Linked DNA regions of Homo sapiens. The protein of the gene in region 1 interacts with the protein of each later gene in a pairwise test. Each region holds a gene or a part of one and is shown on either strand. Other genes may lie near its edges.

Region 1 (3,747 bases):
GACGGAGTCTTGCTCTGTCACCCAGGCTGGAATGCAGTGGTGTGATCTTGGCTCACTGCAACCTCCACCTCCCAGGTTCAAGCAATTCTCCCACCTTAGCCTCCCAAATAGCTGGGATTAGAGGTGCCAGCCACCATGCCCGGCTGATTTTTGTATTTTTGGTAGAGATGGGGTTTCACCATGTTGGCCAGGCTGGTCTCGAACTCCTGACCTCGAGTAATCCACCTGCCTCTGCCTTCCAAAGTGCTGGGATTACAGGCGTCAGCCACCGCGGCCGGCCCTTGTTTTTTATTTTCTTGAGAAAGGGTCTCCCTCTGTTTCCAGGCTGGAGTGCAGTGGTGGAAACATGGCTCACTGCAGCCTCAACCTCCCAAGTTCAAGTGATTCTCCCACCTCAGCCTCCGTAGTAGCTGGGACCACAGGCACGCACCACCGTGCCCAGCTAATATTTTAAGTTTTTTGTAGAGATAGGCTCTTGCTACGTTGCTCAGGCTGATCTTAAACTCCCAGGCTCAAGCAGTCCTCCTACCTCAGCCTCCCAAAGTGGTGGCATCAAAAGTGTGAGCCACTGCAGCCAGCCTCATGGCACCTCTGACTGGTGACCACTCCAAACCCCTGAGAGTAGGGGGCTTGGGTCTACCTGGGCCCCGGGTCGGAGGAGGCGGGGGGCTGCAGGCTGGCGGGACTCACACTCGCTTCCGCTGCACCAGCTCCACGTAGTCCTCGGAGCGGGCGTAGTACTCATCGGGGCTCAGGGCGCCCCAGAAGTTGGACCACAGCTTGCCGTGGCGGGACAGCATGGGGGCGATCACCTTCCTGCGGACAGGTGGGGGTGAGGGCTGGGCAGACGGGAGCAGGCCTGGGGAGCCCGGTGCCCAGGGCAGGAGTGGGGTTCCCGGGGCCTGTTGGGGTGCCCTCCGGCTGCGGGGAGAGGGGGTAAGCCACCTGTTCTCCTCAATGAGGATACGCAGGGTCTGCAGGTTGGTGAGGACAGCGTCGGCGTCCAGGCTGAAGTAGAACTCACACTCGGGGTCCTGCCGACACAGGTCCCTGGAGGTGAGAGGCGAGCTGAGACGGCGGCAGGTGGGGAGGCGGTGTGGATGGGGTAACTGGCCCATGCCCCCAGGAGAAGAGGAGGGAGGCAGTGTCTATCCTTCCTTCCCCAGGCTCTCTGCTGTCTGGGTGAGCTGGCAAGGGCAGGAGTGACAGCATGGGGGCTGCAAGGATGCGAATGGGGAGGCCCAGGAGGGGCTGGATGGGTGACAGGTGAGGCAAGGGCCAGGCAGCAGGTGGCAGCACCCCTGACCCTACAGCCTCATCCCACCCTCTCCTCCCCGCAAGCACCCGCTCACATGGCCATGTCCCTGGCCTCGCCTGGGCTCAGAGCCTCCTCCGGCCCCACGAGCTTCACAGCTGAGAAGTGGTCCTGGAGCTGCGGCCAGGAGTCAGCGATGTGGGGTTCATGGAAGACCTCCTGGGAGGGGAAGACATAGGGGGATGGGCTCAGAGGGCAGGGAGGCGGCACCTGAGGGATGGGGGTGCAGGAAGGAGATGGGGGTGGGGGCACGAGAGTTCTGATCAGGGCAGGGAAAGGGTCCCTCAGGAGAGGCTCCAACAGGGGAGTCTCACGTTGTTGTGCAGGAAAAGGGTGACCCTGTCGGGGGGATAGTCCAGGAGTAGCAGCCGCTGCAGGAAGCGGGGCAGAAACGGAGTAGGCTGTTCCACAAACACGGCCAGAAACACCCGGGGGGGAGGCTGGAAGATGCAACACGCAGGGACTCAGAGAGAAGCCCGGACTTCCCTGCTGCCCCCACCCAACCTCCACCCTGACAGGTGCAGGGACCCAGGAGCGATGCCCCCACCGCCCCCCAGTCCGCTGTCCTTGTACCTCCTGCTCAGCACGCTGCCCTCTCGTGCCCCTCCCTGGCACCCCCACCTCACCTGCCCCCCCGGGAGTGTCCTCCGGTCCTGGTTGCAGAAGCCACAGCCTCCCTCAGGAGTCCAGCCATTGGGGACGTAGTTTCCCAGGTAGTTGAGCTGCAGCTGTTGGGGACAGACTGAGGCTGAGTGGCTGAGGCCTCCAGGGGTGGAGGTGGGGGTCAGGCACCTCTGATATGGGGGCTGGGAAGGGCCAGCTTCTCAGAAGGGTTGGAGGTGCCTGGGGGTTGGGGCAGGGCGGGGCGGGGGTTGAGACCACTGGTGGCACCTTAGTGGGACCGTTTCCATGGACCACAATGGGGAGCGTGTCGTAGGCCACGTTCCGGATACGCACACGGTTCCGATCAAACTTTAAAACCACTTCATCTGGGGAAGAAAAAGGCCAGGCTTCAGACCCCCTTTCTCTGGGAGCTACCAAGCAACACATTCTTCTAAATATGGGGTCCCAAATTCTCCAGGGAATAAAGGGACACCAGGGCTATCCTGGAGTGTGGCTCGTTGTGGGCAGGAACCTTTGGGTTCTGACCAGGCTGCTGGCCCAGAGAGCTCCACTGCCTACTACCTGCGTGATCACACCGCAGCTGGGCGAGGAAGGGGAGGGTGAGCTGAGCGGGAGGCCAGTAGGAGCCTCAGCATCCCTACCCCTCCTCATATTCTCTCTCTCCTTGTTTTTTTTTTTTTTTATTTTTATTTTTTGAGATGGAGTCTCACTCTGTCACCCAGGCTGGAGTGCAATGGCGTGGTCTCGGCTCACTGCAACCTCTGCCTCCTGAGTTCAAAAGATTCTCTTGCCTCAGCCTTTCAGGTAGCTGAGACTATGGGCACATGCCACTACACCTGGCTAATTTTTGTATTTGTATTTTTTGTTTTTTATGCTGAGATGGAGTCTCACTCCCAACACGCAGGCTGGAGTGCAGTGGCACGATCTTGGCTCATTGCAACTTCCACCTCCAGGGTTCAAGCGATTCTCCTTCCTCAGCCTCCCGGGTAGCCAGGATTACAGGCGCGCACCACCATGCCCGGCTAATTTTTGTGTTTTTAGTAGAGACAGGGTTTCACCATGTCGACCAGGCTGGCCTTGAACTCCTGACCTCAGGTGATCCACCTGCCTCGGCCTCCCAAAGTGCTAGGATTACAAGCATGAGCCACCACACCCAGCCTAATTTTTGTATATTTAGTAGAGACTGGGTTTCACTATGTCAGCCAGGCTGGTCTCAAACTTCTGACTTCATGATCTGCCCGCCTCAGCCTTCCAAAGTGCTGGGATTACAGATGTGAGCTGTCGCACCTGGCCTTTTTTTTTTTTGAGAAGGAATCTCACTCTGTCACCCAGGCAGGAGTGCAGTGGCGCAATCTCGGCTCACTGCAAGCTCTGCCTCCCGGGTTCCAGTGATTCTCCTGCCTCAGCCTTCTGAATAGCTGGGATTACAGGCACCCGCCACCACGCCCAGCTCATTTTTGTACTTTTTTTTAGTAGAGACGGGTTTTCGCCATGTTGGCCAGGCTGGTCTCAAACTCCTGACCTCAAGTGATCCTCCTGCCTGGGCCTCCCAAAATGTTGGGATTACAGGCGTGAGGCACCGTGCCTGGCCTCTCTCTCTCCCCGTTCTCCCCATCCCCTGAGGCAAGTCACCAACCCCTCCACAAGCTGTTTTCCTCATCTGTACAAGAAGGATAACCAGGGACCTTCCCTTTGTTAAATGGAATCACAGAAGTAGACCGGGCACAGTGGCTCATGCCTGTAATCCCAGCACTTTGGGAGGTTGAGGCAGGCGGATCACCTGAGGTTGGGAGTTCGAGACTAGCCTG
Region 2 (3,747 bases), on another chromosome or scaffold:
TCCTGCCTCAGCCTCCCGAGTAGCTGGAATTACAGGCACGTACCACTACGTCCAGCTAATTTTGTATTTTTTTCAGTAGAGACGGGGTTTCTCCATGTTGATCAGGCTGGTCTCGAACTCCCAACCTCACGTGATCTGCCCGCCTTGGCCTCCCAAAGTATTGGGATTACAGGCGTGAGCCACTGTGCCTGGCTGACCTAAGACAAATGTTAATCAAATCAAGGTGTGGGCCTCATTTGGATCTTGACAAAAACCATTTGTGAGAGCTGAGGAAATGTGAAGACTGACAGGATATTTGATGGTATTAAGAAATCGGTAAGTTTTTTTAGGTGTGAAAACAGTAGTGTAATGATGTTGAACGACAAAAAGAGGCCTTATATTTACAAATCTATATGGATATATGTTTAGGTAAAATGATATGAGGTCTGGGATTTGCTTTAAAATAACCTAGTAGGTGTGTGTGCTGGGAGATGTACAGATGGGTCAAGATGGACTGTGTACTGATAATGGCTGGAGCTGTGTATTGGGTACATGGGGGCTCCCTATTCTACTCTTTTGATTATGCTTGCAAGTTTTCATGATAAAATGTTAAATAAAAGGCAAAATCAGAGAGACTAAACATTCTACTGTGTAGGCAAACATATAAGATAAAACCAGACAAAGAGCAACGAAATAAGCAAATAAATGACAATGCAATGCTTTTGAATTTTATATAAACAGCATAACGTATGTTTTAAAAAAGTGCTTTCTGGTCATTTCTTTTTTTGTTTTCTTTTTTTAAACAGTACATGTCTGTTAAATGGTCATTTCATTAGCTGATTAAAAAAAAAAGAATACTAAATCCCATGTGCAGGGTGGTGGCCACCTTTGTGGATGAAACGGGCAGAATACACATTGAAAATGAGTTACAGCTGGGCGCGGTGGCTCACAGCTGTAATCCCAGCACTTTGGGAGGCCAAGGTGGGTGGATCAACTAAGGTCAGGAGTTAGAGACCAGCCTGGCCAACACAGGGAAACCCCGTCTCTACTAAAAATACAAAAATTAGCCGGGCGTGGTGGCAGGTGCCTGTAATCCCAGCTACTCGGGAGGCTGAGGCAGGAGAATTGCTTTAACCCTGGAGACAGAGGTTGCAGTGAGCCCAGATCGTGATATTGCGCTCCAGCCTGGGCGACAGAATGAGATTCCGTCTCCCCCCACAAAAAAAAGGAGTTATAGACAGCATGGGGCAATGACTTAGTGGATATTCAGAAGATAAAAAGGACAGAAAGCAGAAAAACAGGGAACAAGGAGGACTGGACAGTGAGCCCCAGCCCTGGGGGAGCACCGGCGGGGAGGGCAGACCAGCTCTGTCTCACCTTGCTGTCGGAGTCCACGCGCTCATCCACAGAGTAGGAATCATAGTAGAGACTGAAGTCATCACCCACCACCGTCTCCCACTCCTCCAGGGACCCGGGGTCCCCTTTCGTCAGGGTCACTTCTCCTGAACGCCGGGCAGAACCTAACTCCTCTGACTAGAAAAAGATCAGAAAAATTGAGGCCACTGACACCCTGCGCATTTCTACTGAGGATGGGATGCAGCCCCACCTCTGACCCTCCCTCAGAGCAGCCCCCGAGGGGTAGAGGCTCTGCCTCTGCTGCTTACCAGGCCACCTCCTGAGTTCAGCTTCCTCCTTTTGGCCAGATCTGGAAGAAGAGAGAGAATGGTGTGGGGCCTATCACCGAAACCTTCAGAACAGACCACATCAAGCCACCGGGGGTGGGGGATGGGACTGACCTGAGGTCACCTTTCCCAGTGAGTGGACATCATCACTCATGCGGAAATGCTGTATTTCAGGGGGCCGCTTCTCAGGGACCGGGGGCTGTGGGCCGAGAGGGAGCACACTGAGGGTCAGAGAGCACCTACAGTTTTGCCTGGGTTAGCCTGGAGCCCCAGGCGGGGGTGGGGTAGTGAGCCACACCTCCAAATGCCATGTGAGGCTCCAGTAGCCACAAACTGGCAACCACGGGTGCTATTTCCTCAGAGGAAGAGTGTCAAGCACACTAACACTCACTCATCTCTGCAACCATGCAGAGCAGGCCCTTTTCCATTTTACAGATGAGAAAACAAAGCTTAATAAAGTTAAAAGACCTTTTATATGTGGCCATATACACAGCAGGACTGTTTACAACAGCTGAGGTGCGGAAGCAACTCAAGTGCCACTGACAGATGAATGGATAAGCAAAATGTGGCATTTATACACAATGGAATAACATTCAGCCATAAAAAGGAAAGATATACTTTTTTTAAGAGATAAGGTCTCATTCTGTTACCCAGGATGGAGTGCAGTGGCATGACTATGGCTCACTTCAGCCTCGAACTGGACTCAAGCCATTCTCCTGCCTCAGCTTCCTGGGAAGCTGGGATTACAGGCACATGTCACAATGCCTAACTAATGTCTTCTTAATTTTTTTTTTTGGTAGAGAAGAGGTCTTGCCATGTTGCCCAGGCTGGTCTTGAACTCCTGGTGTCAAGTGATCCTCCCCAGAAAGTACGGGATTACAGGCGTGAGTCACTGGGCCTGGCCTTTGAAACATTCTTTTAAACTTCTTTTAGAGATGGGGTCTTGGTATGCTGCCCAGGTGAAAGGAAAGAAATTCTGACATGGTACAACATAGATGAACCTTGAGGACATTATGCTAAGTGAAATAAGCCAGTCACAAAAGGATAAATACTGTATGATTACACTTAGATAAAGTACTTACTCAAATTTATAGAGAAAGAAAGGACAGTGGTCCTTGCCAGGGGCTAGGGGGTGGAGGGAATGGAGAGTTATGTTTTAATGGGTACAGAGTTTCAGTTTTACAAGATGAGTTATGGTGACTGATGATTGCACATGATGAAAGTATTTAATACCATTAAATTATATACTTAAAAATGTTTTTTATTTTATTTTTAAATTTTTAGATGGAGTCTCACTCTGTTGCCCAAGCTGGAGTGCAGTGGCGCGATCTCAGTTCACTGCAGCCTCTACCTCCCAGGTTCAAGCGTTTCTCTCACCTCTGCCTCCTGAGTAGCTGGAACTACAGGCACATGCCACCACGCCCGGCTAATTTTTGTTTTGTTTTTTTTTTTGAGACAGAGTTTTGCTCTTGTTGTCCAGGCTGGAGTGCAATGGCAGGATCTCGGCTAACTACAACCTCTGCCTCCTGGATTCAAGCGATTCTCCTGCCTCAGCCTCCCAAGTAGCGGACTGTTACAGGCATGTACCACCATGCCCGGCTAATTTTGTATTTTTAATAGAGATGGGGTTTCACCATGTTCGTCCGGCTGGTCTCGAACTCCTGACCTCAGGTGATCCACCTGCCTTGGCCTCCCAAAGTGCTGGGATTACATGCGTGAGGCACCCCGCCTGGCCTAATTTTTGTATTTTTAGTAGAGACAGGGTTTCACTATGTTGGCCAGGCTGGTCTCAAACTCCTGACCTCAGGTGATCCTCCCGCCTCGGCCTCCAAAGTGCTGAGATTACAGGCGTGAGCCACTGCGCCTGGCCTAAAATTGTTTTTTAGATGGTAAATTTTACGTGACACTAGTCCCCTCTTATCCAGTTCATCAGCAGTGATGGTGGCATATTGTTAGAATTGTGCTATTTTTTTTGAGTCTCGCTCTGTTGCCCAGGCTGAACCGCAGTGGCGCGATCTTGGCTCACTGCAAGTGATTCTCCTGCCTCAGCCTCTCGACTAGCTGGGATTACAGGCGCACGCCACCA

Evidence for each region. The genes of interacting proteins can lie anywhere in the genome.
Region 2: the proteins of PLOD3 (region 1) and EHMT2 interact in binary tests that used the Homo sapiens proteins (3 or more experiments, as listed by UniProt).

The regions. Positions count from the first base shown.
Region 1 is NC_000007.14:101,210,901-101,214,647, forward strand, and holds part of PLOD3 (multifunctional procollagen lysine hydroxylase and glycosyltransferase LH3 precursor), read right to left. Parts: intron 2,305-3,747; coding exon 2,207-2,304; intron 2,044-2,206; coding exon 1,942-2,043; intron 1,756-1,941; coding exon 1,630-1,755; intron 1,475-1,629; coding exon 1,353-1,474; intron 1,051-1,352; coding exon 946-1,050; intron 817-945; coding exon 691-816; intron 1-690. UniProt on the Homo sapiens protein: Multifunctional enzyme that catalyzes a series of essential post-translational modifications on Lys residues in procollagen. Plays a redundant role in catalyzing the formation of hydroxylysine residues in -Xaa-Lys-Gly- sequences in collagens.
Region 2 is NC_000006.12:31,891,051-31,894,797, forward strand, and holds part of EHMT2 (histone-lysine N-methyltransferase EHMT2), read right to left. Parts: intron 2,613-3,747; exon of another isoform or gene 2,312-2,612; intron 1,861-2,311; coding exon 1,776-1,860; intron 1,685-1,775; coding exon 1,644-1,684; intron 1,513-1,643; coding exon 1,357-1,512; intron 1-1,356. UniProt on the Homo sapiens protein: Histone methyltransferase that specifically mono- and dimethylates 'Lys-9' of histone H3 (H3K9me1 and H3K9me2, respectively) in euchromatin.